5 separate regions of the Homo sapiens genome follow, and all the other regions are linked to region 2. A link means that fine-mapping ties the variant in region 2 to the plasma level of a protein whose gene starts in the linked region. Region 2 holds a variant in brackets. A gene starts in each other region. All regions are shown on their reverse strands.

Region 1 (5,909 bases), not on the chromosome of region 2:
TTTTTTTTTTTTTGGAGACAGGATTGCCTAGGCTGGAGTGCAGTGGCAGAATCACAACTCGAACTCCTAGGCTCAAGCAATCCTTTTGCTTCAGCCTCCCGAGTAGCTGGCACTACAAGCATGAGCAACCATGCCAGGCTACAAAGCCACTTCTTTGCTGGGAGGTGCCTGACCATGGAATCAGTTCCATTCCTGCCTCAATGACTTGCAACCTGTTTCCTCCTCTGCAGATTGGGAACAGCAATCCCCACCTCAACAATTTGGCGCCCCCACTCTCCCAGGGGAAACTGGGGGACCCTCTAGGCGGTGTTTGCAGAGTCCCCTCCCAGCAGGAGCCACAGGGTTGAATAGGAGCTGCCAGATCAGTCTCCTTCCCGGGACATCCCCGGGGGCGGCAGCTCCACCTGCTGCAGGAAAGGTAGGACCTGATGGCTCCAGGCCCTCGGAGGCTCAGAGGCGCAGGGCTGAGCCATGGGAACGAAGCGCGAGGCCATCCTGAAGGTGCTGGAGAACCTGACACCGGAGGAGCTCAAGAAGTTCAAGATGAAGCTGGGGACGGTGCCGCTGCGCGAGGGCTTTGAGCGCATCCCGCGGGGCGCGCTCGGGCAGCTAGATATCGTGGACCTCACCGACAAGCTGGTCGCCTCCTACTACGAGGACTACGCAGCCGAGCTCGTCGTGGCCGTGCTGCGCGACATGCGCATGTTGGAGGAGGCCGCACGGCTGCAGCGGGCTGCGTGAGGGCCACTCTGAGCTGGTACGTGATCTCGGGACCCAACCCCGCTTCCTCGCCAAGGACCCACGCGTCAGGTCCCGCCCAGAGCCTTCCTGTTCCCCTCCTTCAGGGTCCCTCCTGGGGTCCTCCCTCAGACCTCCGGCCAGCCCCTCCCGGGGGCGAAGGGCTGGGCTGCCGCGAACCCTGGTGGGCTGCATCTCGCCCCACTGCCCCCTTCCAGGCTCCTGGGCTGCCTGGGCCCTGTTCCGTTTCATGGGTTCTGTGCTTTCTTCGCAGATAAAGACGGGCAAGGTTGGGCGAGGTTGGGTTTTTTTTGTTTGTTTGTTTTTTGTTTTTTTTTTAGCGGCAGCAAGATTTATTGCAAAGAGCAAAAGAACAAAGCTTCCACAGCATGGAAGGGGATCCGAGCGGGTTGCCCTGAGGTTGGGGTCTTAAGCACAGGTGTGCTGGGATGGGAGGGGTCCCGGGAGGAGGCTCCTGCCCTGAGCTAGGAGACCACCAGCTAGGACTGGGCTGAACTGGGCCAGGCAGGACTGAGAGGCTGGGTCCCTGGGAAGTCTGGGGGCCTCGAATACCAACGAAAGGACGGTGGTCTACCCCTTCTAGGAGGCGGGTCAAGGCAAAAGGAGTAATGCAACGCCTGTGAAGCCAGCCCCACGCGCGCACCAGTCGCGTAAGACAACAGCAGTGTCTCCACCTCGGGGACCAAGGACGCCTCCGTGCCTCCAGACCCCGCCTCCTCCAGCCCCTGCACCTGTCATTTATTCTTCCACTGCCCAATAAATATTCATGGCAGACTTTACTGGGGCTGCGCGCACACGTGCCCGCCGGTAGCTATACGTGTGTGCTTTTGCCACACGGATGACACGCACCAGCCAGTGTGCGTTCGTCTCTATTTGCCTCTGTCTGGGTGTCTCTGCTGGGTACTTCGGGACGCGCACAACTGCGTGTGGGCTCCCAAGGCTTTCGGGACTTCCAGCTCCACCCAGAAAAACATCCTGGACGGGGCTCTCGGTGCCACCCTGGGCCCGCACACATAAGTGCAGATCCCGGCTGCCTAGCCCTTACAGTCTCCCTTCTGGTGAGGCCCCGCCTGGGGACCGTCAGGCCAGCCCAAGTTCCGCAGCTTCAGGGGTGCGTGGGCCTCCGCTGAGCACAAGGGGACAACCCTGCCCCGGCCGCCTGGCTCGGTCCCGAACGCCGCGCCTCCAGTCCAAAGTGGGCCAGCGCCGAGCAGGGAGCCAGCCCGAACGGCCCACCGGGTGCAGGAATGCGAGCGTGGGCCGCAGGGGCTGGTCAGTCCCTGCTCCGCCTGGCTCCGCCCGGCCCATCAGACCCGCCCTGGGGCTCCGCCCGCCCATCTCCAGTTTCCTCTAGGGACTAAGGCCGGGAAACCTACGTTTGCTCAGCGCCCTTATCGCCAGGCTCCATCCCTGCGCGGCTTTCCTCTGCCAGCCCCGCCTTAAGCTCCTCAGACCCTCTTTCCTGGCTGCTTCGCCCCGCCCCCGCCCCCCGCAACTCCAGGAGCTCGTGAGCCTCTCTAGAGACTCAGAATCCAAATCACTGCAGCGACCTCCCCATCGGCCCCGTGCCACCGAACAGCCCCTCCGACCACGATGCGCGCGGATCCCGCACCTTGAGGCGTGCGTGGGCCTCGGCGGCAGGCAGGAGGCGATGACCGCGGTGCGAGCCGAGTGAGGCGCACACTCCGCACACCAGCGCGCGGTCCTGCTCGCAGTAGATGCTCAGCGGGTCCAGGTGCTCCTCGCAGTGGCCCTGCGGCACCTGGGCCAGCCCCTCCACCAGGCGCGCCAGCTGCAGGTTGGTGCTGAGTGCCTGCGGCCGCGTGGGGGCCTGGCAGCAGGGGCAGAGAACGGTGCCATCCGCCGCCGGCTCCCCGGCCACGCGGCCTAGGCAGGCGCGGCAGAAACTGTGGCCGCACTCGGCTGTCACGGGCGCGTCGAACAGCTGCAGGCACAGCGGGCAGGACAGCTCCTGGTGCAGGAGGCCGGGCGCAGCCGACATGGCGGGCCTGGGTGGAGGAGGAGTAGGTTAGGGGGACCCCGCGGCGCCGCGCTCCCGGCCCAGCCCTGGCCCAGCCCTAGCCCAGGCCGGGCCCGCCGCCCCGCAGGGAGAAGCCCCAGCCTGTAAAGACCTCACATCCTACACTGGATGGGACTCTGACGGCCAAGGGGAAAGAGGAACTCGGTCTCAGGCCCAAAAGCAGCCTCCACTGCAATTCTCAGCTCCAACCCCAAAAATATGCCCTATCAGTCAACCCCAGTTCCTGAACACAAGCCCAGATTCTAGCCCACTGTCCTTGCCCTCGCCTTAGCCCCAGGCCTCAGCCTCTGACCTTAGTCCCGGACCCAAATTCTCCAGAGCCCCCACTCCGAGACTCCCCTCCCTCACTTTACCAAGATACCCAGACCTCCCCTCCCCCTCTCTCCAGCCCACGGGACTCACAGGTCTGGTTGGAGATCTTAGGCTGAAAGAGTCTCGAAGGAGGACCGGTCAGGGTTGAGCTTAGCTGGACTGGGGTCAGGGCTGGGTCCAAGGATCTGAGACAAGCAGCAGGCTCCAAGCAAGGACAGGGACTCACAGGGGCAGCTGGCAGTGGACACCACGCGTGATGGGCACACAGTGCTCAGCGGAAGACCCTCCCAGACTGAGCCATGGCCCCAGGACTATATTTAGCTGCCCTGCCCAATCCCTCCCATCACTTCCGGAAACCGTTCTAAAAGTGAGGGCTGAGTAGTCCCTGGGCACACATCACATGACAGGGCCACCTGTCTTGGCCCATCCACTGTTCTCTCCCCGGCCTGCCTGGAGTCAGAGCTCAGAGCCAGCGGGGAGCCAGGGCCTTTCACACCACAGAAAAGACAGAAAATTGAAGGGGGTCTGCCCTTTCTCCCCCCACTCCCACCTCCACACTCTCCAGCTCCTTCCTCCTTGCTGGCAGCCCCTCCCCAGCCTGTCACCCACTCATTCCCCAAGTTTATGGCTGACCAAGGTCACCCTGGCAGGATTACCCCACCTGCAGGAGGGCAGGACCTCACCCCACCCTGAAATGTTTTCTTCCTCCAGAGCTGAGGGGAGGGTCTTTTCCACTTTGGTCTCTCTAGTACACCCAGGACAAGCCTGGGACAAAGTAGGCCTCTCTAAATGCTTGGAGAATGAATGATAGAGAGACATTGAACAAATGAATGAACTGAATCCAGAGCCTGCAGCCCAGAACTCAATTCTGCCCTGGTTCCTGTATGTGTATCTTTCAAATCTCAGCTGAAATTTCATTTAAGTGGCGCTGGGATAACTGGCTAGCCTTATGCAAGAGAATGAAACTGGACCCCTACCTTTCACCATATAAAAAAAATTAACTCAAGATGGGTTAAAGATTTAAATGTAAGACTTCAAACCATAAAAATCATAGAAGAAACCGCAGGAGAAATACTATTCTGGATATCAGCCTTGGTAAAGAATTCTTGACTAAGTCCTCAAAAGCAACAAAAACAAAAATTGTTAAGTGGGACCTCATTAAACTAAAGAGCTTCTGCACAGCAAAAGCAAAAGCAACTATCAACAGACAGACAACTGAAGAATGGAAGAAAGGCCAGGCGCGGTGGCTCACGCCTGTAATCCCAGCACTCTTGGGAGGCCAAGGCGGGTGGATCATGAGGTCAGGAGATCGAGACCACAGTGAAACCCCGTCTCTACTAAAAATACAAAAAATTAGCCGGGCGCAGTGGCGGGCACCTGTAATCCCAGCTACTCAGGAGGCTGAGGCAGGAGAATGGTGTGAACCCGGGAGACGGAGCTTGCAGTGAGCCGAGATCGCGCCACTGCACTCCAGCCTGGGGTACAGAGTGAGACTCCGTCTCAAAAAAAAAGAATGGAAGAAAATATTCACAAACTATGCATCCAACAAAGATCTACTATCCAGAATATATAAAGAAACTAAACATTTCAACAAGCAGAAAACAACCCCATTAAAAAGTTGGCAAGGGCCAGGCACAATGGCTCACACCTGTAATCCCAGCACTTTGGGGGGCCCAGGCGGGTGGATCACTTGAGGTCAGGAGTTTGAGACCAGCCTGGCCAACATGGTTAAACTTCGTCTCTATGAAACATACAAAACTCAGCCGGGTGTGGTGGCAGGTACCTGTAATCCCAGCTACTTGGGAGGCTGAGGCAGGAGAATCGCTTGAACCCGGGAGGCAGAGGTTGCAGTGAACCGAGATCGCACCACTGGACTCCAGCCTGGGTGACAAGAGCGAAACTCCAACTCAAAAAAAATAGCTGGGCATGGTGAAGAACACCTGTAGTCCCAGCTGCTCGGGAGGCTGAGATGGGAGGATTGCTTGAACCTGGGAAGCAGAGGTTGCAGTGAGCCAAGATCATGCCATTGCACTCCAGCATGGGCAACAAGAGCAAAACTCCGTCTCAAAAAAAACAATAAATATTAAAAAAAAGAAAAGAAAGAAATTTCATCTAGAATAAAAACCAAAGTGCTAACTGTGGCTTACAAAGCCCTATCTGCTATGACCCCATTAATCACTCTGACTCTTTTATCACCCCTTTCCCCATTGATCACTCGGCATCAGGGACTTTGCACTTACGGTCCCCTCTGCCTGGAACACTCTCCAACCCAGGTACTGCATGGCATCCTCTTTTTCCTCCCTCAGACTTTGCTCAATATTACCTTTCCAGCAAGACCTCTCCCAATTCCCTGATTTTAAATCTCCTAACTCCCCAACATCTCACTGCCTGGCTTTCCTTTTCTCCATAACATTTATCAGCATCTGACATGCAATGTATTCTACTTGTTTGCTGGTTTCTTGTCTGTCTCTTCCTACGGAATAGAAATTGTGTTTACTGCTTGTCTCCAGCTTAGACTAAAGTGTGTGACACACATTAGGCGCTCTACAGATACTAGGTGAATGAATAAACACGCAAACTCAGTCCCTCTCATTTGGCCTCTCCATCTTTCTCTTAGCTTCCCTCAAACCTTTTCCTGGTTTTACTCTTTCCTCTCTCAACTGCTGTCTCTCTCAGAATGAATTTTTGTTTCTGTTTCACTCTCTTAATCTCCCCTTTGGACTCTCCCTTTGCCTGTCTCTTAGGTTCTTAATTTTTTCTTTTTCTTTTTTTTTTTTTTTTTGAAATGGAGTCTTGC
Region 2 (6,050 bases):
TATGATTTAAAACAGTGCAGTATTGTTGTAGGAACAGATATACAGAGCAATGTGACTCCAGAAACAGATCCATGCATACTTGATATACAAGAGCAGTGGTTTTGCTTATCAGTGGAGAGAGGCAACTCTTTCAATAAATGGTGCCAAGGTAATAAATTTTCCATAGGAAAAAAATTATCTCTATTTCACACCATTTACAAAAATCACTTCCAAGTAAATAAAAACCTAACTGTGATAAGCCAAACTTTTAAAAATTTTTAAAGAAAATATAGGAGAATATCTTTATGACTTTGAAATAAGTGCAGATTCTTTAAACAAGAAATATACAAACCACCAAGGAAAGACTCATGACTTTTACTATAATTAAATTACAAATGTCTGTAAATCCAAAGACAATCTCAAAAAGTAAAAAGGACAAACCACAGAGTCCAAGAACATTTTTGAAATGCCTATAAACAACAGATGATCAATAGCCGGATTATGTAAATAACTTATAAAAATTAAAAATTTAAAAAACAGCAAAACTTAGAAAATTCACCAAAATTTATAAAAATTAAAAATTAAAAAGAAACAGCAAAACTTATAAAAAGAAAATTCACCAAAGGTAATCTGAATGGCAAAGTGACATTTTTAAAACAATGCTCAGGGAAATAGATAATTAAAACACAATGAAATTCATTTCATACCCATCGGATCAGAAAAAAACTAAAGTCTGGCAATATCCAGTGTCGGGAGGATACTGAGCAGCAGGAGTCTGAACTGATACCTAATTAAGAGGAAATCTGGCAACCACAGACAAGTCTGTAACAGCAAAATGTTACAAACAACCTAAAAGTTCAATAGAAGAATGGATAAATTGTAATATACCCACACACTAAAATGCTATATAGCAGTTAAAATTCATGAGCTACAGGTACGTATATATCAACATGGACAAATTCCAAAAGTGTAATGCCAAGTGAAAAGGTTGCAAAACAAGTATACATGGTGTGATACCATTTATATAGGTTTACAATATACATAACAATACCATATATTGTTTGTGGTTAATACATATTTGGTAAATGTAAAAATCTTTATGGGAATGATAAACAGCAAATTCAAGACAGTGTGTACCTCTGGAAGGATGGAAGAAAATGGAACTGAGATCGAGTAAACAATACCAAAAGTTTTCTTAAGAAGATGGTATTCATTATATCATTCACTGACTTGTAAATCTACACTTACTTGTAAATCTTAAATTATTTTGTAAGAAAAAGGAGAACACAAAGAACAATGTTAGAATGCCCATCAAGGACTGCTCAAGGGAGAGTGTTCTGACAAGCTAGTCCACTGGTGTATCTGGTCCAGCATGTCCTAGTCTTTTAAATAAATGTCTCACCACATGAGTGCCTAATGATATTCATCAGCTGAACCACACAACACACCCTCTGCCACAGACTTCAAACACACCAAGGGGCCTTCTAGAAAATTTGGCTTTCTCAAAATTGACAAATGGGATCTAATTAAACTAAAGAGCTTCTGCACAGCAAAAGAAACTACCATCAGAGTGAATAGGCAACCTACAGAATGGGAGAAAATTTTTGCAACCTACTCATCTGACAAAGGGCTAATATCCAGAATCTACAATGAACTCAAACAAATTTACAAGAAAAAAAAAAACAACCCCATCAAAAAGTGGGTGAAGGATATGAACAGACACTTCTCAAAAGAAGACATTTATGCAGCCAAAAAACACATGAAAAAATGCTCATCATCAGTGGCCATCAGAGAAATGCAAATCAAAACCACAATGAGATACCATCTCACACCAGTTAGAATGGCAATCATTAAAAAGTCAGGAAACAACAGGTGCTGGAGAGGATGTGGAGAAATAGGAACACTTTTACACTGCTGGTGGAACTGTAAACTAGTTCAACCATTGTGGAAGTCAGTGTGGCGATTCCTCAGGGATCTAGAACTAGAAATACCATTTGACCCAGCCATCCCATTACTGGGTATATACCCAAAGGATTATAAATCATGCTGCTATAAAGACACACATACACATTATGTTTACTGCGGCACTATTTACAATAGCAAAGACTTGGAACCAACCCAAATGTCCATCAATGATAGACTGGATTAAGAAAATGTGGCACATATACACCATGGAATACTATGCAGCCATAAAAAATGATGAGTTCATGTCCTTTGTAGGGACATGGATGAAGCTGGAAACCATCATTCTCAGCAAACTATTGCAAGGACAAAAAACCAAACACCGCATATTCTCACTCATAGGTGGGAATTGAACAATGAGAACACTTGGACACAGGAAGGGGAACATCACACACTGGGGACTGCTGTGGGGTGGGGGTAGAGGGGAGGGATAGCATTAGGAGATATACCTAATGCTAAATGACGAGTTAATGGATGCAGCACAGTAACATGGCACATGTATACATATGTAACAAACCTGCACGTTGTGCACATGGACCCTAAAACTTAAAGTATAATAATAATAAAATTTTTTAAAAAAAGAAAATTTGGCTTTCCATAATTTTCCCAAAAGGAGAAAGCATTCATCAGCAAGATTAATATAAATACCCAGTGTTTCTGATAATGCATTTCTGACTGTAAATTAATAAAATGGCACTCTGGTTTTTATACTTCAGTCCCTGATGAGTTCAGTTACAATGAAACAGTTTTCCTGAGTCTGATCAACTCTGGGGCACTGATATGAGTGCATTTCTGGGTATATAAGAATGAGAACCAAACCCTGACCCTTTTTCTGGGCAACACCCCAACCTTATTCTTTGCCTTCCAAGGGGTAAGGGGCAAGAAAATTTTTCTAATAAGAGAAAGCAAACAAATTCCCAATAAATGCTTAGTTATATAGTTAAGCCAAGTTTTTCACAATGTTTCTCTTTTCCTTGTTATGACTCTAGAAACTTAAGAACCATAATGTTACAGCTAAAATAAGAAAAGAGAAAGAGGTGGGCTGTTTCAGGCAGGATCTTACAGAATCCCAATACCTCATCCCCAGATGGATCTCACTTTTGTTAGTTTTTGTCTGTACATTCAAATGTGATCAAGCTCTGGGAGACAGATTCACTCTAAGCAAAGTCTTAAGGGTCCAATTGATTTATTTACTAACTACAAGATAATAAACGTATTCAGAACAAGAATCAGCTGTTTAACATGGGGTATTCCCTGTCATTGGATAGATTCATTTGAGAGATATCAGGTTATTAGATGAGCTTCAGAGCAAAAGAGTTTTATTCTCCAAGGTTGTGCTATGGTAATCTGATGATTCAAAAATTTTTCCTAAAAGGGATAGAAAAATACAAAAGCAGCATTGTTATTGAACATCTTATGAACTGGGAACATTACATTATGTGCTATATACTTGACATATATTTATTTATTGTTTAATTTCATTCTCATAGCAACCCTGTGGTTATAAATGTTATTTTACTGAAGAGCAAACTGAGACTTTAAAAGGTCAA[G/A]TATATTATATTAGTAAAGTCAGGTTTTATACCTAAATCTGTCTAACTCCAAAACATATGTGTTTGCTAACATAACACTGTCTTGTGCTTCAGTAATATTTTTCTCTAAACAACTACAGTCAAACAACTAGGACTGGTGCAATCCACTCTTCTGGACACTGCTGGAGACACACCAACTAGTACTCATCCTCAGACTCCCCCTTTCCTGCTTCAATGCAACCAAACTTAATGTCTTGAGAGAGACTTGAGGAACACCCTGCTCATTAGCAGCACTTAATTTCCAAGGGTGGACTCCTGCTGCAGATAACTCATCTCTTCACATTTTATTTATTTCATCACATTTAACAGTTCTCATTAGTTTCAATTCCAGAGGGTGGCATTTTCTGACTTGACCTCCTTAATGCATGCCTTACTTTGTAGGTCACCAGGGACTAATAATAAACAATCACACACAGTCTGGTATCTTTTGAAAGATAAGTATCTGATACCCAATTCCTTCAATAGCCTGTCTCAGCCCTCTTCCTCTACCCCTCCTGTTCTCTCAGACTCCCTGACTCTGTGTGCTCTACCCTAGAAACAAAGGGCTCCTGAGCATCACCACCCACCTTGGTTTGTCCTTACCTACAAATTCTTGCCAGAACACTCCAGATGTTGAAGACTTAAAATTGTGACAAATCAGCCATGCAATATTCATAGACTTCACAAGCAGAGAAGTGAACTCCATGTGCAAAGACACTGAGGAAATAGTGTTCTCAGGGATCAAAGAGTATATGTCTTTGGCTGAAGCATGTAGAAAAACCAGTATCAGGAACTGCAGCTGGAAAAGCAAGTTGGAGGCAGGCTGTAAAGGGCTTTAAATAGAATCACATGAAGGAGGCGGAGAAGAAAGGTCAGTGAAGGACACTGATAAAGATGAATCAAAGTTGGAGGAGAGGCAGAGAAAATGGTGTTCTAGAACCCAAAGAGAGGGAATTTCACTAAGTAATGGAAGATAAAATGCATTTTATAAAGTTATTATAAATACTCTTCTGCCAGATAGCATATTGGCAGAAGAGTAGATAATACAGATCAATATAACAATAAATAGCCCAGAAACAGATCCTAATATATATATTTTTAATTAATTTGTGAACTGTCTGCTACATAGTTAATATATATAGTGTACTTAGAAAAGTGTCTGGTCCACAGTAATCATCTAATAAATATTAGTGGCTATCTTTATTACTACTTGTTGTTATAATTCTTATTAAATATCAGTGTGAAAAGATTCTTTAAAAAGTTTGTAGTAAAGAGGAAATAAGAGAGTAGGCAAGGAAGAAAGAAAAATCCTTTATAAAGGAAGAAATTAAAATATATGCTGGAAACACAGGCAGCATGCAATAAAAATTTACTGAATGTGAATAACAGTTCTAAGTCAAGTGGAAGGTGATTTATAGAAAGTAAGAATCTGTTGATACAGAGAAAGGAATCGTTGTTGGATCAAGGACCTAGAAGGAATGACAGAAATTGAATCAAATATACACATAGAGAAATCAGTCTTGGAAAGGAAAAGAATACCTCATATACTCTTGAAACAAAAAGGAGATTAAAATTCAGCAAAAATACAATTACCTCCATGTTTTTAAAAGAGGTTCCTAGGATGAGCTGCATCAGAATCACCTATGGTAATTATTTAAAAAGCAAACTGATGGCCTCTATCCCAGATCAACTAAATCCAAATTTCTAGTAGATGGGACCCAGGAATCTGTATGTTAGTGGTCCATGACCTAGTTGATTCCTTTTAGAAACAAAGTTAGGAGAATTCACATCCGTTGGCCCCTATGGAGACAACAAAACTGACTCCTTGCCCAACCACCATTATGACTAAGCATATAAAGTCGCACCATTGGAGAGGAAAAACAAAAATCTTTACAACCCTGAGATAAGCTAAAAATGAGGAAGAAGATTCTACCTAGTCTTCCAAATCAATGAAGCCTTGAGCCCTTTCCTATAAATTGCTAACTCTCTAATGTAAACAACTTCATCCCTGACTTTTGCAACACTGACACCTACAAGTATGATAATGATATGGAGGAAATTTTTTCATCCACATGAATAGACTAACTGTAATCTTGGTAGCCTGACTCCTCATTCTTTTTGAATCACTTCCCAATCTTAACAAAGAAGGAAGTAAAGTGATCTACTAAAAGGAAGATGGGGAGGGAGTGAAGCAGGAGGCTTAGAAAGATCTGAAAAGGGAAAGGTCTGAAAATTCCAGCTGAGGGGTCTGGTAAAAGAAACCACCTAGGTATGATGAAAGGGATTGCCAGGCAATATTCAGAGTGTGGGCAAGGTTAATATAATAAATGTGTAGAAATAAGCTAAGGCACCATGTATGTGATATTTGCCATCTTAACAGCCTGGCAGAAGAAGCCAAAAAAAAAAAAAAATGGAATTAGGTTAATCCCAGGTTTGAGACTGGCAGGGCAGGTACAAGGAAAAATGAAGGGTCCAAGGACACATAATGGTCTGTAGAGAAGGTTATAGGTATGGGAGGAAAAACCAGAAACCCTTACAGCA
Region 3 (6,050 bases), not on the chromosome of region 2:
AGTGCCTCAAGGCAGACGGATGCATTTTGGAACCCCTGGGGTGTGGCTGGGATTCTGGCTTGCCCAGGTAACAGCCTGAGGGTGAAGAAGCCCTTCCTTGTGCCCTGGGGCTTCCCAGCTCCTCCAGCCCAGGCAGCTCCTCCAGCCCAGGCAGCTCCTCCAGCCCGCGGCCCCGCCTTGTCCACCGGGCACCCACTCAGTCAGCTCCTCCAGGCCAGGGCCCTGACTTGTCCACCAGGCACCCACTCAGCCAGCTCCTCCAGCCCAGGGCCCCGCCTTGTCCACCGGGCACCCACTCAGCCAGCTTCTCCAGCCCGGGGCCCCGCCTTGTCCACCAGGCACCCATTCAGCCAGGACAGGGCCCAGGGCTGGGCTGGTGCAAGCCTGGAGTACGGTGCTGTGCCGCCCTAAGCCAGGCGCTTCCCTCTCTGAGCCACCACACCCTTGTGTGTTCCTAGGGGCCCAGCATAAGGTAGAGGGGGCAGAAGGTGGGGGAAGGGGCATGAGCAAGGAACTTCGGCTCCAGACAGAAGCCTGGGCTTGTCCCCGTGCCGGGTTTCCTGGTTCAGGGAGCAGGGGGCAAGGCTAACGGGGTGGGGCGGTGGTTTTCCCTGCCCCAGGCCCCTTCGTCGCCTCTCCCAGGTGTCATTTCTGCTGCCAATACCCTGATGGTACCAACCAGGCCCAGGGCCCCAGCTCCAGGGGCTGAGTGGGAGGGGTGGAGTGGGGGAGGGCCCAGGCCCTAGAGAACAGAGGAGGGAGGAGGGGGGAAAGGCTGGCGGTGATAGTGAGAAGTGCTTGAGACCCCACCAGGTTCTGCCCCAGAACGTGCCTGGAGCTCTCTGGCCCTCACTTCCTCACCAGTGAACAAGCACTGGGCAGGGACTGACATGAGGGGCCACAGTGTCTCCTCTCCACATTCCAATCCCTGGCTCTGAGGCTCTAGTCAGGTCACTGCCTACAAGAAACCCTCCCTGACTGCACTGTCCCCAGAAGCTCAGCTGTCCAAGGGCTCCTGGCATCAGAAGCACCCGCTTTCTCCTGAAAGTGAACTGTGTAGGGCTGCTGTTCATGCTTTTGCTAGGACCACCTGGGATGGGCAGCTCATCCTCGTGGGCAGCCCTGCCAGGTCAGAGGCCCTCATCCCACAAAACTGGAACCCCGCTCCGGCTCCCATGCCTGGCAGGGACGCAGCCACAGTGATGCCTGAGGTGTCCCACGGGGGTGAGCCAGGTGTGCAGGGCCCTCCTCCAGCCCCAGGTGTGGGGAGCACACTCCCCCATGGCCCCACACTCAGAACCCACTCTCAGGCCACCTGACATCCCGGACCCTCCAGCTCCACCAGACCCAGCAGGAATTCCAAACCTGTTTTTCCAGCAGCTCTCATGCCCCTGGCCACAGTGAGTCACCCTCCCCACCTGCCATGCCCACCGAGTCATCACCCCGCCACCAAGCCCTGAGCTCTGCCTCCCAAGGCCCCTGGAAGCACCTTCCCCCAAGCTGCCCATGCCTCTCACTGTGACCCATGGACACAGGGCCTTGGAGCTGGAGGAAACCTCCTCTCTCTGGGTGGGGGCATGGACCTTTGGGTCACCTGCCTTGGCAAGTGAGACTACACACGTCCCCACCAAGCTCCAGCCAGGGCCAGGCACCAGATGCAAATGTGGGGCTGCCCCAGGGGGCTCCCGCCTGCACCCTGGTTTCTAAAGGCACCACCAGGCAACCCCTCCTGTAGGTGGATCCTCCAGGCCCCGGCACTGTGTCAGGGAGAGCCCGGCCAGGAGCATTCTCAGGAGACATTTGCTGGGATCCCCGGCATCTGAGACGTGGGGCTCAGCAAGGGAGAGATGCCGGGAGGAAGGGCCAGAGGGTCTGTCTCAAGCCCAGGCCTGACTGGCCCCAGTACCCACGGTGCTCCCAAAAGCCTCAGCCCAGCCCAGGACCACCCTCCTCGGAACCGGCCCTGCCCTGCCCTGGGCCTGTTGTTGTCTGTTCATCAGCCACGTGGCAGCGGCGGCAGGAGGCTGGGCCCAGGGCTGACCTCCATCTGTGCCCCGGCTCCCACTCACCTTCAGCCTAGCCAGGGCAGGGGCAAAGCAAGTCTGTGGGCCCCTCCACACCACTCAGGTGGGTGCTGCCCAGCACAGGCGAGCGGCAGAGCGTGCTGGGCTGAGCAGGTGGATGGGGGCCCCAAGAGGTGGGCTCCTGCGCGAGGCGGTGGGTGCTCAGAGACCCCGTCTCCAGGGAAAGAAAGTCCCTCCTGTGAGTATAAAGAGGGTGAAGGCGGGGACTGGCCTCCACTCAACGGGCAGCAGACCAAGAACCTGCTTTGAGGCCCTGGGTGCTGGGGCCCAGCCCCAAAGAGTTCACGATTTTGGGGAGACTGGAGCCGGGACACCTAGAGCAATAGTTACAAAGTGGCCGGGATGGCGCTGCCCCCAACGTAGCAGGAGGGGCCTGGAGAGTGGGGGAAGGAATCCCACGGGGAGGGCTTCTGGGGCCCTGGAGGGCGGGAGGCAGGGCTGGTGGAGACCAGGAGGGCTCAGTCTCTCCCTGCACAACGCAGGGTGGAGTTGCTGCCTCCACAGCCCGGGCCTTCTGCCCACAGGGCTCCCCAGGCAACTTCGAGGGCCGGGTCCTCACAGTCCTCACTCTGTCCAGTGCTCACCTCACTGCTGCCCCAGCTGCCCTCCCTGCCTCGGAGTGGCCTCTGCCTCTGCCTCTGCCTCACACACCCCATCAGCCCACAGCCACCCCGAGCCCTTGCAGCTCAAGGACCTTCTGCATCCCCGGCAGCAACCCTGAGCCCAGAGCCAGGAGAGTAGGACCAGCACCTGCCCTTCCTACCTCCCCTGCCCTGGACACCCACGGGCACCCACAGGGCACCGGGCACAGGCTGCAACTCTATTGAGGGAACTATGGGGGGAATGCAGGGACAAAGACACAGGATGGTGATGGATGGTGGGGGGTGGGGGGCGGGGGGTAGCGGGTGGCAGGTCAGAGACAAAGTGACCCAGGAACGGACGGCAGCGAGAGAACAAGACCCACAGAGACAGAGAAGTGAAAGTGGGAGAGATGGAGGCACAGCAGCAGGAACAGCAGGGCCAGGAGGCCACTGGGCCCCGTTGCGGAGGGCAGACCTCTGCCTGGCGGGGGGCAGCAGGGGCAGCGCCCAGCGACAGCCAGGCTGGTGGGCGTGGGCCAGGCAGGGTGGGGCAGGTGCCCGTCCTGGGCTGACGCTTGCACAGAGCCCTGCAGAATGCCGCTGGCTGGCGGACTGCCCACCCCCGCCCAGCCCGTGCCTATAAGGCCTTGGCAATGCAGGGGCCCGCACTGCTCCCAGACGACATCAGAGATGAGGACAGCATTGCTGCTCCTTGCAGCCCTGGCTGTGGCTACAGGGCCAGGTGAGGGGCTGGGCCAAGGGGACGGGCGGGTGGGCGGCTGTGGCCTGTGTGGTCACCAAATACTAGGAGCCTGGAGCTGACGACATCTAGGCACAGAGAACCCCGACACTGTGGGTGCTAGACTCTTCAAATTTAAAACAACATGGAGCCCGAATCTTAACGAGTGTCAGATTTACAATGTTTCAGAATCTGAGGATCTTAGAACTGACTCCTGGAGTCACGGACCCTGAGAGAGTGGAGCAGGGGGTTGTCTTGAGATGCTTCTCACTGGGAGAGCGGCCATCTAGTCCCTGCCACCAGCCCCTCCCGGTCCCCAGGTCTCCCCCAGCACAGCCCAGGACAGCCCAAAGGCCACCAAGCCCTTCCTGTCATAGGCTCAGAGCAGCCAAGCTGGCTGCCCCCGGGGCCTTAGCTCCGTCAGGCCCTCAGAAACATAGCCATCTCCTCCAGGGACATCCCCTGGGGTGGGGACAAGAGCCAGTGTCCTCTTGGCAGTCGCAGAGCTCCCTGAGACCTTGGAGGAAAGGCTTGCAACACACCCTAGACAGGGGCAGGGCAGGACACCTCTTCCAAGCCGGCCCAGGCTGGAATACATGTCCCCTGAGGCTGCACTCAGGGCACATGCCCTGCCAGGACCCAGAGCCCGGGTTTGGGGGCCTAGGGCAAGGGCAGCAGGGCCTCTGTCCAGGAGGGGTCTCTGCAGGTGGGGGAGCAGGCCCTGCTGAGTCACCAGGAGGCCTCTGTTGGGCCCGCTGAGCCGGACTCCCTCCCCGCCAGCCCTTACCCTGCGCTGCCACGTGTGCACCAGCTCCAGCAACTGCAAGCATTCTGTGGTCTGCCCGGCCAGCTCTCGCTTCTGCAAGACCACGAACACAGGTGGGTAGCATCTGTCCAGGTGTCCCTGGGGCTGGGGGACATCCCTGGCTGTTGTGGGTGTTGGCTGGAAGGTTGTGGGGAGGTGGGGGGCAGAGGTGGCTGCCTGGCCTGACCACACTCACCTGTGCCCAGTGGAGCCTCTGAGGGGGAATCTGGTGAAGAAGGACTGTGCGGAGTCGTGCACACCCAGCTACACCCTGCAAGGCCAGGTCAGCAGCGGCACCAGCTCCACCCAGTGCTGCCAGGAGGACCTGTGCAATGAGAAGCTGCACAACGCTGCACCCACCCGCACCGCCCTCGCCCACAGTGCCCTCAGCCTGGGGCTGGCCCTGAGCCTCCTGGCCGTCATCTTAGCCCCCAGCCTGTGACCTTCCCCCCAGGGAAGGCCCCTCATGCCTTTCCTTCCCTTTCTCTGGGGATTCCACACCTCTCTTCCCCAGCCGCAACGGGGGTGCCAGGAGCCCCAGGCTGAGGGCTTCCCCGAAAGTCTGGGACCAGGTCCAGGTGGGCATGGAATGCTGATGACTTGGAGCAGGCCCCACAGACCCCACAGAGGATGAAGCCACCCCACAGAGGATGCAGCCCCCAGCTGCATGGAAGGTGGAGGACAGAAGCCCTGTGGATCCCCGGATTTCACACTCCTTCTGTTTTGTTGCCGTTTATTTTTGTACTCAAATCTCTACATGGAGATAAATGATTTAAACCAGTGTGGCTGTGGCTGTGCTATTCTGGGACGGAGGAGCTGAGGGGCGGATATCAGGCCACATAGGTACCCTGAGCCTCCAGCACATGTCCCCTGGGGCCAGTCGTGGGGTGATGCCTGAGGTGGCACCGTCCGTCCCCACCCTGGAAGGGGCAGGCTGCTCAGATGCCTCCCACCGCCCCAGAGGTGGAGGGCACTCCTGGGGTGAGGCCTGAGTAGGAGCACAGGGTAAGAGGGCTCGCAGGCCCCTCCCACACATAGCACCTAGGGGAGAAGGAACCCCTCAGCCTTTCACCCCGGGTCATGTCTCTGAGACCGGGGTTCAGGAGCCTCCAGAGAGGCCGGCTTGGGACACCCCAGGCCCAACCCCAGCTTTGGAGCCAAGTAGGCACTGACTACCTACAGCCATCGCCAAGGCAAGTCCAGCTGCCCAGGGAAAGTTCAGCCACCATCCAGGAAAGTCCCATGGACCCTATCTATGGGAACCCAGCAGCCCCTTGGCCAGACCTCACCAGGGTGAAGCTAGACTGGGCGGGGAGTATGACGCAGGGAATATGGGCCAGATGAGGTCGCCCAGAGGCAGGGAGGGTTCCGCACCCACTGCGTGGGTTCTGGTATTTCGGGGATGAGGTTGGGACGTGCAGTGAGATGAGGCCCCCGGCAGATGCCCCAGCAAGGGGCCCTTCCACTTCTGGAGAGGGCCAGAGGCTCCTGCAGGCTGACCACATGTCCCCGGCATGGGAAGTCTCAGGCCTCACCAGGGTCAGAGCAGAGCTCTGCCTTCCCCCAGGCCAGCTCCCTCGCAGGCCTGGCCTGGAAATTCCGTGGTGGCAGAGCCCCCTCCGGCCGCGGCCAGCAGACGGTGGCGTAGCGTGGGTGGCAGCTGGTGAGGGGTCAGTGGTGCTCCCTGGCCCTGGGTCCAGGCATTCAGCTCTTTGTCCCACACACCATGAGACCAGCACCATCACCACCCCCAGTTCCAGCTGAGGGGCTGGGGGCGAGTGGGGTGCTGGATGGTTACTGGAGGTGAAGCGTGATTTGGGAAGGCCTGCTCTTACCACCTG
Region 4 (6,050 bases), not on the chromosome of region 2:
TATATGTGTGTGTACATATGCATATATATATATATATACACACACATATAAATATAAAGACCCAATTAAAAGTGAATAAGACTTAAACAGACATTTCTCCAAAGAAGATATACAAATGGCCAACAGGTATGTGAAAAGATACTCAACATGTCTAATCATCAGGAAAATGAAAATCAAACCATAAGATCACCTCATACCTGTTAGGATGGCTTTTATTTTAAAAAGAAAAGAAAAAGAAAACAAGTACCGGTGAGAATGTGGAGAATTTGGAACCCTTGTGCACTGTCAGTGAGAATTTAAAGGAGTATAGCCACTACGGAAAACAGTATGGAAGTTCTTCAAAAAATTAAAAATAGAGCTATCACATGATCCAGCAATCCCCCTTCTGGGTATTTATCCAAAAGAATTTAAATCAGGATCCCAAAGAGATATTTGCACCTGCAAGTTCATTGCTGCAATATTCACAATAGCCAAGAAATGGAAACCTAAATGTGCATTGACCCATTGACAGATAAATGAGGGAAGGAAAAAGATTATATACATGTACATATATATGCATACCATGGAATATTATTCAGCCATAAAAAAGAAGAAAAGTCTATCTCATGCTACAACATGGGTGAACCTCAAGGACATTATGCTAAGCAAAATAAGCCAGTCACAAAAGGACAAATATGGCATAATTCCACTTTTATGAAGTGTCTAAAGTAGTCACTTATAGAAGCAGAAAACAGAATGGTGGTTCCAAGGGTCTGGGGGTGGGGGGAATAGGGAGTTGCTATTCAGTGGGTTTCAGTCATGCAAGATGAAAAAGTTCTAGAGACCTACTGTATGACACTGTGCCCACAATTAACAATACTGTTAGTATGCACTTAAAAATATGTTAAGAGGTCATGTCTTATAGTATATATTTCTTACCACAATTTTTTAAAAAAACACGGTGTTGAGCAAAGCATGCAAAATACAAAAGAATACTTAGGCCATAATTACGCTTACACGAAATTAAACAACACGTATCACTAAGCAAGCCATAGCAAGAGAGCAAAACTTTAAAGGAAAACATGAGGATGATTAACAGAAAGTTCAAGATAGTGGTTACCTCTGAAGTAGGGATGGTAATGTCCTATTCTAAATTGATAGGTTCATAGGTGTTTATTATTCTTTTTCAAAAGGTATAGAATGTTGATTACATTCTTTCATATGTAGGATTTATTTTACAATACTTTTTTTAAAGAAGTATCATCAACAGTCAATTACAAATGACATTTTGGGGAGAACCGGAGAAACAAATATGAACTGGCTATGAGATGACATGCAGAAACTATTAATTATCTTAGATATGATAATGGCTTTGTGATTATATTGAAGAATATCCTTATTCTTAGAATTTGCATGCTGATGTATTTAGGAAATAGGAACATAATGTATTCAATTTCATTTCAAATATTTCAACAAATGTAGCTATAGGTATTCTAAAATATCCCAAACTATTAATAATTGTTAAATCCAGTTGTAGGTATACAAGTATCATTGTTCTGTTATTTCAATTTTTCTGTATGTTTAAAAAGTTCATAATAAAAAGGTGGAGGAGGAAATAGCCAATACATTCCAACATTCTAGTATTTGTTTATGAACTTCCCAGATTCCATCCCTGGTATCCAAATGATCTGAGTCCAGTGATATGACTGGTGAGATTGTAACCAAAGATTCACCACCTAATAAGGAGTAGGCTCACTTCCAGGAATGGAGGTATCCTCCCTGCCTCCACTTAACCCCAACTCAGTCCCTTCCACACTTCAGGATGTGGAACACCCCAAACCCAAATCTTTGCATTACTCAGGGGTCCTGTTAGTAAATGACAGAAATCCAATTCAGACCAGCTTAGGCAGAAAGGTGAATGTATTGGGTGGTAACATAACCCTGGGTATGAGTGGGGCTGATCTCAGGAAAAAGTTTAGTGAAGGACTAGATATCCTCTAAATTACTCCCTGTCCATCTCTCATCTCTTTTTATCAGCATCTTAGATTTATCTTCTCAGAATTTCTCTCTCACCAGGGCCAGGACCAAATTTCTGGAGTTTCTGGGCTTATATCTGCAACTTTTCCAACAGGAAGGATTTTCCTCCCTTTAGTACTCATTCAAAGAAAGGACCCCAAAAGCCTGGTCACACACACACACACACACACACACACACACACACGCACACACGTCCATGTCTTCTTCCAAATCCAGGAATTTGGGGGATGCAGGGGCAGAGGAGGGAAAACAAATCCTATGAAGATGATACAGTATAATTATTATGCTCATTGTATGAATGAGGAAACGGAGGCTTAGAAAGGTGAAGCTGCTTTCAAAGTCACACAGCTGGTGACAGGTCCAAAATCTGCTTTCCTCCAGGCCACATGAGATTGGCGGGGGGCAGGAGCACACGGTGCTGGAGCGCAAGGCTGAGAGTGAATGTTCAGGACAGACATTTTAAGCACTGCCATTCAGATTCTTCCTTGGGGTGAGGTGAGAACTGAGAACAAGTCCGGGGCAGCACAGGAAGGAGGGAAGATTTTGGTCCCAGGTGAATCAGGCATGAAGAGGGACTGATAGAGAACACGGTGGAGTTGAGGAAGTCTGGCCCTGCCACTGCCTCGTGTGTGAACTTGAGTAATTTCATGCCCTTTCTGTGCTTCTTTTCCTCCTTCCATAAGATAGTTTGGCCCTGGTGGCGCCTAATGGTCAATCACGTGTCCATTTCTTCTCCTCGTGTGAAGAACGAGGGTCGCTCTTGGATTTCTTCATCTATTCCAGTGCAGAGCCTTAGGGAAAGCCCCAAGTCCCTCCTCAGAAGGGGCCATTTCCAAATAGAGCTGGGAAGTGCAGCCTCCCTTGCCATTTTGAGCCTTCAGCTCCACCCACTGGCATGCCCAGCAGGAACACTATAAAGCCAGGCTCAGCCCAGCTCCCAGCCAAGCACCTGCCTGGCAACATGGGGTCCAGCAGCTTCTTGGTCCTCATGGTGTCTCTCGTTCTTGTGACCCTGGTGGCTGTGGAAGGAGTTAAAGAGGGTGAGCAGACATGGTGGAGCTGGGTGGGGCTGGGCTGGGGAGAGGTCCTGAGGGGCCCTCTGGGGCTGGAGTTCTCATATCACCTTGTGGCTTCCTCCACTAGGTATAGAGAAAGCAGGGGTTTGCCCAGCTGACAACGTACGCTGCTTCAAGTCCGATCCTCCCCAGTGTCACACAGACCAGGACTGTCTGGGGGAAAGGAAGTGTTGTTACCTGCACTGTGGCTTCAAGTGTGTGATTCCTGTGAAGGAACTGGAAGAAGGTAAGGAGACCTGCCTCCCAGGGCTGGGGCTGTCCCTTCCCTGCCTCTATCTGACCCATGAAAGTTCGGAGGAATTAGTCCCTTTAGCTGGTGTGGGGAGGGATGGCTAAAGCTGGCAGGGCCCTCAGAGACCACCTAGTCTGAACATCTCCATTGTCCAAAGGAGGAAACAAGGATGAAGATGTGTCAAGGCCATACCCTGAGCCAGGATGGGAGGCCAAGTGTCCAGGCTCCTCCTCTACCAGGTGTCCTCAGAAATGATGCTGGGTCCTTTCTACCTCTGGGGGTCACTCTCACTTGGCACCTGCCCCTGAGGGTCCTGAGACTTGGAATATGGAAGAAGCAATACCCAACCCCACCAAAGAAAACCTGAGCTTGAAGTCCTTTTCCCCAAAAAGAGGGAAGAGTCACAAAAAGTCCAGACCCCAGGGACGGTACTTTCCCTCTCTACCTGGTGCTCCTCCCTAATGCTCATGAATGGACCCCTCATGAATGAAACCAGTGCCCTTATAAGAGACCCCAAAGAGCTGCCTTGCCCTTCTGCAATGTGTGATCACAGCTAGAAGGCACTGTCAGAGAAGAGAAACTGGTCCTCACCAGATGCTGAATCTGCTGGTGCCTTGATCTTGGACTTCCCAGCCTCTAGAACTGTAAGAAATAAATATTTGCTGTTTATAATCCACCCAGTCTATGGTAATTTGTTATAGCAGCCCAAACCTGCTAAGACAACCTAATAGTAAAAAAAAAAAATCCTATTCAACATTATCAAAGTGAATAAAATATAAAATACCTACAAATAAATCTAGAGATGTACAGAAATTTTCTGAAAGGAAACCCTAAAACTTTATTAAATGACATTTTAAAAGATCTGGATAAATAGACTAAACTTTTCTACAGAATAAATAAATAAATGTTTTTTAAAAGATATGCTCTTCCCCAAGCAGGAAGCCTCCTCAAAGTGTTCACCTTGGTCAGCATAATTTATACCTGAAATATAATTAAAATTAAAACCCACTGGGTTTTGCAAACCCTAATGAAATAATTGATTCTGGCAATGATTATCCATGGCTTCTGAATATTTACAGGGTGCCATTTCATCACCCTGTGGTATATTTACAGTTTGTAAGAGGGAAAACACAAGTTTACAACTTGAGGATTCAGGTACACACCGAAAACACATTAATCTGTCTCCACAATGCTAAAAATGGGTAAAGCGGACCTCCGTTCCTCCTGAGGTGATGCAACACAAAACACACAGCATCATTCAAGAAGGGCTCCTGCCAAGACAGTTGAGCATGAACCTCACCAAGCCTCTACAGCTAGCATTCATCTATGGGAAATGTGAAGGACAAAGAAGATGAAAGACATCACAGGGAAGCAACATGGGACATTCTAAAGAACAATTTGTCTGTTTTGTTCAACAAGTCAATAGCATGAAGAAGAAGAAGGAGGGAGGAAAGGAGAATAAAAAAGAGTTGGAGAGATTGTTCTAGATTAAAAGAAACTTCAGATACATTACAGCCAATGCAATATGTGCACCAACAACCATAGAGTCACTTTTGAGACAATAAGAAAAACAAGATGCAAATAGAATATTAGATGATGTTAAGAAACTGCAGTTAATTTTCTTAGGTGTAACAGTAGGATTGTCATTATGTGAGAAAGTGTCCTTAGTTTTTAGAGATGCACACTGAAGTATTTAAAGGTAAAGTATAAGATCGGTTGGATTTACTTTAAAATACTTCAGCCAAAAAAGGGGTGGGGATATGCATGAAGGAATTCTTGTAAAATGGTTCATTGTTGAATCTGGATGATGGGTATGTAGGCTCCATAAAAGTATTTGCTGTTCTTTTGTGCATTTTTGAAAACATTTTATGATAAAAACAAGGGTTTGTTTTTGCAACTTAACAAAATGATCATTAGGTTCACATGGAACAATAAAATACTTGTAACCTGGAAAATTGAAAATGTAGACTAATGAAGGGTAATGGATACCACCAGTCACTAAAACATATTATGGAGCTACAACAATTACAGCCACAATACAAGCATACCTTGTTTTATTGTGCTTTGCAGTCATTGCATTTTTTACAAATTGAAGGTTTGTGGCAACCCTGCACCAAGCAAGTACATTGGCTGCATGTTTCCTATAGCATGTGCTCACTATGTGTCTTTGTGTCACATTTTGGTAATATTCACAATATTTCAATTTTTTTCATTATCATTACATCTGTTATGTTGGTCTGTGATCAGTGATCTTTGATGATACTTTCCTAATTGTCTCAGGGTGCCATAAACTGTGCCCACATAAGACAGTGAATTTGATCGATAAATGTCACATATGTTCTGATTTCTCCCCCAACCGGCCATTCTCTGTTTCTCTCCCTTGGAACACAACAATGCTGAAATGAGGCCAATTAATCATCTTACAGTGGCCTTTAAGTGTTTAAGTGAAAAGAAGAGTCATGTCTCTCACTTTAAATCAAAAAAAGCTAGAAATGATTAACCTTAGTGAGGAAGGCATGTTTGAAAACCAAGAAAGGTCCAAAGCTAGGCCTCTTTTACCAGTTAGCCAAGTTATGAATGCAAAGGAAAAGTTATTGAAGGCAATTAAAACAGCTACTCCAGCAAACACACAAATGGTAAGTGAAACAGACTTATTGTTAATATGGAGAAAATGTTAGTGGTTTGGATAAAAAAATCAAAACAGCCACAGCATCCCCTTAGCCAAA
Region 5 (6,050 bases), not on the chromosome of region 2:
CATCGAATTCTGCCTCGGAAGGGCCCATTCACTACACATTTGTCTGCCGCCACTTTTATAGCCACCCATCCCTCCATCCCTGAATTCTCCCATCCATTCATTCATTTTTTCACACATCAACTCTCTCAAATGTCATTCATTTAATAATCCATCCACCCATCTTGCCCCCATTCATCCATCCATCCTCCACCCACCTATCCACCCATCCTCCATCCATCCATCCTTCTGAAATCCATCCATCCACACATCTATCCAACATCCATCCATGCATCCACCCACCCATCCTCTGCCCATCCACCCATCCGTCCCCATCCATCCACTCATCCTCCCCTCATCCCCCACGCATCCACCCATCCATCCTCCACCCATTCCCCATCCATCCCCCACCCATCCACCCATCCATCCCCCACTTATCCATCTACCCATCCATCCACCCATCCATCCATCTATCCATCCCCCACCCATCCTCCATTCATCCCCCACCCATCCATCTATCCATCCCCCACCCATCCATCTATCCATCCCCCACCCATCCACCCATATATCCTCCACCCATTCCCCATCCATCCCCCATCCATCCCATATTCATCCCTCACTCATCCATCTACCCATCCATCCACCCATCCATCCATCCACCCATCCATCCATCTATCCATCCCCCACCCATCCTCCACTCATCCCCCACCCGTCCACCCATACATCCTCCACCCATTCCCCATCCATCCCCCATCCATCCCATATTCATCCTCCACTTATCCATCTACCCATCCATCCACCCATCCATCCATCCACCCATCCATCCATCTATCCATCTACCCATCCAGCCACCTATCCATCCCACACTCATCCTCCACTCATCCCCCACCCATCCACCCATACATCCTCCACCCATTTCCCATCCATCCCCCATCTATCCACCCATCCATCCATCTATCCATCCCATATTCATCCCCCACTCATCCATCCACCCATCCATCCACCCATCCTCCACTCATCCCCCACCCATCCACCCATATATCCTTCACCCATTTCCCATTCATCCCCCATCCATCCATCCAATCCATCCCCCATCCATTCCATATTCATCCCCCACTCATCCATCTACCCATCCATCCATCTATCCATCCATCCATCTATCCATCCATCCCCCACCCATCCTCTATTCATCCCCTACCCATCCACCCATACATCCTCCACCCATTTCCTATCCATCCCCCATCCATCCACCCATCCATCCATCTATCCATCTACCCATCCAGCCATCTATCCATCCCCCACTCATCCTCCACTCATCCCCCACCCATCCACCCATACATCCTCCACCCATTCCCCATCCATCCCTCATCCATTCCATATTCATCCCCCACTCATCCATCCACCCATCCATCCACCCATCCATCCATCTATCCATCCATCCCCCACCCATCCTTCATTCATCCCTGACCCATCCACCCATACATCCTCCACCCATTTCCCATCCATCTCCCACCATCCACCCATCCATCCCATATTCATCCCCCACTCATCAGCTACCCATCCATCCACCCATCCATCCATCCACCCAACCATCCCCAACCCATCCTCCATTCATCCCCCACCCATCCACCCATCCATCCTCCACCCATTTCCCATCCATCCCCCATCCATCCAACCATCCATCCCCCATCCATCCCATATTCATCCCCCACTCATCCATCTACCCATCCATCCACCCATCCATCCATCCATCCACCTATCCATCCATCTATGCATCCATCCCCCACCCATCCTCCATTCATCCCCAACTTATCCACCCATACATCCTTCACCCATTTCCTATCCATCTCTTACCATCCATCCATCCATCCCATATTCATCCCCCACTAATCCATCTACCCATCCATCCACCCATCCACTCATGCATCCACCCATCCATCTCCCATTCATTTACCCATCCATCCCCCACCCATCTATCCATCCATCCCCTATCCATCGCCTATTCATCCCCCATTCATCCATCCCCCATCCATCCATCCATCAACTCATCCATCTATACAACCACCCATTGGGACATCACAGGACAGAGAAACCAGAGAGGCTGGTATACCTGGAAGGACTGTGGAGAGGGGCACCTTAGTGGGTCTCACAGCATGGGGAAGATGTGGGACATCAGATGGGAGACCAGGCAATGTGGTCATTGAGCGGTATGGCATAGGCAGGCATGCGTGTGGAACAGGGTGTCGTGGGGGGCACGCAGTAAAGAGCAGACAACACAGTCAGGCCAGGAGGCTGGAGGGTGAGCAGAACCTTATTGTCAGGCGCCTAAAATCAAGAAACTCAGGTTTGGTCTAAAGGCCATTAGTGGGAAGGGGCTGGCAGTGATGAGGGGCCACTCCTGGGCCCAACCTTGTCAGCCTGAGAGTGGTCTAGCTGGCCCATGCTACCCTCACCTGACACCTGCTTCCTACCTCTGGTTTCTACTTTGCAGGTGTGTATCAGGTGTACACAGACCAGGTAGAGGTCTGTGGAGAGGGCTGCAGGCCAGGCTGCAGGGAAGGGGTGCCAGGCGGGGCTAGAGCAACAAGGGCAGAGGCTACACTGAACCTGGGTCTTAAGGGTCCCCCAGGCTGGGGCTGGGTGGCCTATGTGAACCCCAGAGGCACAGCCAGGACATGGGGGCTCATCAGAGGGGCAGTCTGAGCTCAGCAGGAAAGGCCTTCTCTGTCAGAGCTGTCCCAGGACCACTGGACATGGCTGAGGAACAGTGAGTTCCCCAGTGTTGGAGGTGTGCAAGCAGAGGCCTGGCCATCGTCCTCAGACAGAGCTCCCAGATCCAGCTCCCTGCCCGTCTGCCATGTTCCTGCCAGCTGCCTCCCCACTGGGCCCTTTACCACGTTCCTGACTCACACGGCCGGTTCTGCCACCGCCCAGAAGCCGGTGCCCAAGGGCCTGGGTATAAATCCTTGATGTGAGGCTGGCTACCTCTCATCACTTCTGAGCACGGAGCAATGGCCTCTCGCTGGGCTGTGCAGCTGCTGCTCGTGGCAGCCTGGAGCATGGGCTGTGGTGAGTGGGCCGCAGGCTGGTGGGGACCCTGCCTCTGAGCTTGTCTGCCCACCTCCTAGGGGGATGGGGCTGTTGGGGGTGCTTTGTGGCTGAGAGCCTCCTTAGGCCTCCATGAGGCTCACCCTCCTCATTCTCAGTGAGCCTCCTGGGTCCCAGAGCCCAGCTTCACCCTGGGACAGGGGTCACGGCTCCACTCTGCAGGAAGGGAGACTGAGGCTTGGTGGAGGGATGCAGCATTCAAGTCTGTGGCTCAGCTCAGTTAGAGAAAGCTGCCAGAGAGGCCCCTTGAAGGGCTGCCCGGGGCCTTGAAAGATGTCAGCGAGACTCCTTCAGCCCCTGCCTCCTGGTTCCAGGATGAGGCCACCGAGGTCAGGTGATGAGGTTCTGCCCCCATCCCTCACCCAGGTGAGGCCCTCAAGTGCTACACCTGCAAGGAGCCCATGACCAGTGCTTCCTGCAGGACCATTACCCGCTGCAAGCCAGAGGACACAGCCTGCATGACCACGCTGGTGACGGTGGAGGCAGGTGAGGCCAGGCCCCACGGCAGCCCTGGGTGCACTGGAGTCAGGGCCACCTCCCCCAAGTGCCTCCCTCCTTTGCTGGTGCTCCTCCCGGCCCAAAAGGCAGCAGGTGGGATGGGCAGAACAGGCTGCCACACCTTGGCAGGGGTGCCTTCCACGAGGGTGGCACAGCCCCCTCAGAGACCCAGTCCTGGGGCACCAGGCGCTGGAGGTGGGTGGGGCTTAATGGCCGGGGTACCCTGGGGGGCTCAAACCCCAGCTCTGACACAGACCCACTGGGTGGTGTTGCCACAGCCTCTGGGCTCGGGCTCCCATCTCAGCGCAGGCACTTCAGAGGTCTGACAAGGCCTAATAATTCATGAACAGGTCACAGTCAGAGGAGGGCTGGGCCCTGGGTGGCTTCACAGATGTGGACTATTGGGAACAGGGATCACAGGGAGGGTGAGGTCAGGCGACGGCGGCTGGGAGCAGTGCAGCAGCAGGCAGGCGCTGCAGGGGAGTGAGGGTTCTGACACTGGCCCACCCTGCAGAGTACCCCTTCAACCAGAGCCCCGTGGTGACCCGCTCCTGCTCCAGCTCCTGTGTGGCCACCGACCCCGACAGCATCGGGGCCGCCCACCTGATCTTCTGCTGCTTCCGAGACCTCTGCAACTCGGAACTCTGAACCCAGGGCGGCAGGGCGGAAGGTGCTCCTCAGGCACCTCCTCTCTGACGGGGCCTGGCTCCACCTGTGATCACCTCCCCCTGCTTCCTGCTGCTGTGGCACAGCTCACTCATGGGGTCTGAGGGGAGAGAAGCACACCAGGGGCGCCCTCTGCCTTCCATACCCCACGCTTATAAAACATAACTAAGCCAAGAGTGGACATGACTTTTGTCCTTCCTGGGCACTGACACCCTACAGAACTGGCCTTCAGGAGAGCCAGGCTGAAGGACAGCACATTCTAGGCACCTGCTCCTCCCTCTCACCCAGAGCCTCTGTGACCCATTTCACAGATAGGAAAACAGAGACTTAGGGGAAGAAATGCCTCCTGGGCCCCTTTCCTGATGCAAACTAGCCTGGCATCTCAGACCAGGACCTGTACCCTAGCCCAGGGAACATCTCCCGCTAAGAATCTCCCCTGTAAACCCTGGAGACATCGCTCCCACCCTAGAGAGGGAAGGAAGCTCAGAGTTGGCATCCACTTTCCTCCAAGGGTGGATACATCTGGCTCTGCCTGCCCAGCCCAAGGGGTCTTCCTGGGTGTGTGCACCTGGGCCTGCTGGTACCACACAGCTCCACGGTTTCAGTCACCTCCTCTGACAACTGCCCACTGTCCCCTTGGGACAGCTGAGATTAGCGGAGGAGCCCCGGGTTCTCAGGACCCAGGAGACCTGACTTCCAGGCTCGCTTCCCCCTCTTCCTGGCCCTGGCTGTCCCATCACAGTCACAGTGCTCTGTGCCACTGTCACCCCTGTCGGCAGGTGGGCAGAGCCAACGGGGAGCACGGGCTGCTGTGGGCCTGAGCCACCCCTGGACACTGCCCCTCTCCAGGCCCCAGTCCCCTGGTGTCTCCTGGGCTGCACACCATCTAAGCGCTGCCCAGCTAGGTCTTGGGTTCTAAGGCCCCACACATCAGCTGGGTCACGCCCGTGGGGTCTTGTGGGCACCTGTGCCTGCTGGGGTGGGAGCGGTATGCAGCAGGCTGTGGTCAGACCAGCTGGGCATACCCGAGGAGCATGCGGGAGTAACCAGGGCAGTGGCGGGGGTCGCCTAGGACCCCTGTGAGAGCCCACCTCTGTCTATGAAGGGCCCAGATGTCAGAACCCACCCCCTACCTCTACGCCCTCCCAGAAATACCAGGAATTAAATGCTGTCCCTGGGGAGCAGCCCCGACCAGAGAAAGCTGCCAGAGAGGCCCCCTTGAAGGGCTACCCCGGGCCTCCCCGTTGGCCAGCACCGGGCCGGCGGCGTGGCTTCCGGTTAGGGCCCGTCCCCTGGGTCATGGCCGGACCTCCAAGGGCCTCACCCGGGCCTCGATTGGAGCCAAGGGGGCAGGGCCTTGGCCTCACCAGGGGGACGGAGCAAGAAGTCGCCGCATCTCTGGCAGCGTCCCCAGCGGCACAATGGGGATGAGGCCTCCAGGCTCTTTGGGAGCGCAGTGGTGAAGGCTCAGCAGGTGCCCCTATCCCTGGGAGGGCACCTGCGAGGGGCCCCCGATGCTGAGCCCGCACGGCCAGCAGAGGGCGCGCGCCCGAGTCCCGGAACCCGCGCCAGGAAGACTCGTCCCAGAGCGCGCACCGCGAGCACGCGGCGACCCTGTGCGCTCTGCCCGGAACCTGCACTGCGCGCGCAGCTGGGCCGCCTGGACCGTAGGGGTCCGCAGCACAGAGTTCAGAGAGCCCTGGCCCTCTCGGCCGGCCTGGAGGACGCCCACCTGCCCTGCCTGTCGCCGCGACCCTCCCAGGAAATGCGTGGGGAGGCCACGGCCAGGGAGGGACCTCGGG

Which allele goes with the higher level. Positions count from the first base shown, and alleles are read on the strand shown. Strength reflects both the effect of a copy and how common the allele is.
In carriers of allele A in region 2, the plasma level of the protein whose gene starts at base 365 in region 1 tends to be higher than with G alone (moderate association).
As copies of G replace A in region 2, the plasma level of the protein whose gene starts at base 3,333 in region 3 goes down (weak association).
In carriers of allele A in region 2, the plasma level of the protein whose gene starts at base 2,960 in region 4 tends to be higher than with G alone (moderate association).
In carriers of allele A in region 2, the plasma level of the protein whose gene starts at base 2,967 in region 5 tends to be higher than with G alone (weak association).

Evidence for each region. PIP is the posterior inclusion probability: the model's chance that the variant is causal. Protein levels are from antibody-based Olink assays in UK Biobank. Linkage for the fine-mapping came from a reference panel and not from the study's own genotypes, which makes the PIPs less certain.
Region 1: it holds the start of PYDC1, and the variant in region 2 is fine-mapped to the plasma level of the PYDC1 protein (UK Biobank, PIP above 0.99).
Region 3: LY6D starts here. The variant in region 2 is fine-mapped to the plasma level of the LY6D protein (UK Biobank, PIP above 0.99).
Region 4: WFDC12 starts here. The variant in region 2 is fine-mapped to the plasma level of the WFDC12 protein (UK Biobank, PIP above 0.99).
Region 5: it holds the start of SLURP1, and the variant in region 2 is fine-mapped to the plasma level of the SLURP1 protein (UK Biobank, PIP above 0.99).

Annotation. Positions count from the first base shown.
Region 1 is chr16:31,211,591-31,217,499 of GRCh38, reverse strand. PYDC1 (pyrin domain containing 1) reads left to right here and starts at 365. Exons shown (of 2, transcript NM_152901.4): 1 at 365-757; 2 at 1,343-1,538. The coding sequence starts at 472. The coding sequence ends at 741. TRIM72 (tripartite motif containing 72) reads right to left here and starts at 3,381. Exons shown (of 7, transcript NM_001008274.4): 1 at 3,203-3,381; 2 at 2,372-2,768. The coding sequence starts at 2,761. RefSeq lists enhancers at 230-1,144, 2,060-2,974, 2,975-3,890.
Region 2 is chr1:152,204,118-152,210,167 of GRCh38, reverse strand. The region is part of intron 1 of CCDST (cervical cancer associated DHX9 suppressive transcript); the gene reads right to left. Among named protein-coding and RNA genes, the nearest start is that of HRNR, 17 kb to the left of the region's middle. The variant G/A (reference allele first, on the strand shown) is at 3,492.
Region 3 is chr8:142,783,822-142,789,871 of GRCh38, reverse strand. It overlaps LY6D (lymphocyte antigen 6 family member D), which reads left to right and starts at 3,333. Exons shown (of 3, transcript NM_003695.3): 1 at 3,333-3,407; 2 at 4,185-4,283; 3 at 4,416-4,990. The coding sequence starts at 3,356. The coding sequence ends at 4,651.
Region 4 is chr20:45,121,375-45,127,424 of GRCh38, reverse strand. WFDC12 (WAP four-disulfide core domain 12) reads left to right here and starts at 2,960. Exons shown (of 3, transcript NM_080869.2): 1 at 2,960-3,056; 2 at 3,160-3,318; 3 at 3,482-4,000. The coding sequence starts at 2,978. The coding sequence ends at 3,579.
Region 5 is chr8:142,739,323-142,745,372 of GRCh38, reverse strand. SLURP1 (secreted LY6/PLAUR domain containing 1) reads left to right here and starts at 2,967. Exons shown (of 3, transcript NM_020427.3): 1 at 2,967-3,045; 2 at 3,451-3,570; 3 at 4,097-4,424. The coding sequence starts at 2,988. The coding sequence ends at 4,230. RefSeq lists silencers at 5,770-5,849, 5,890-6,050.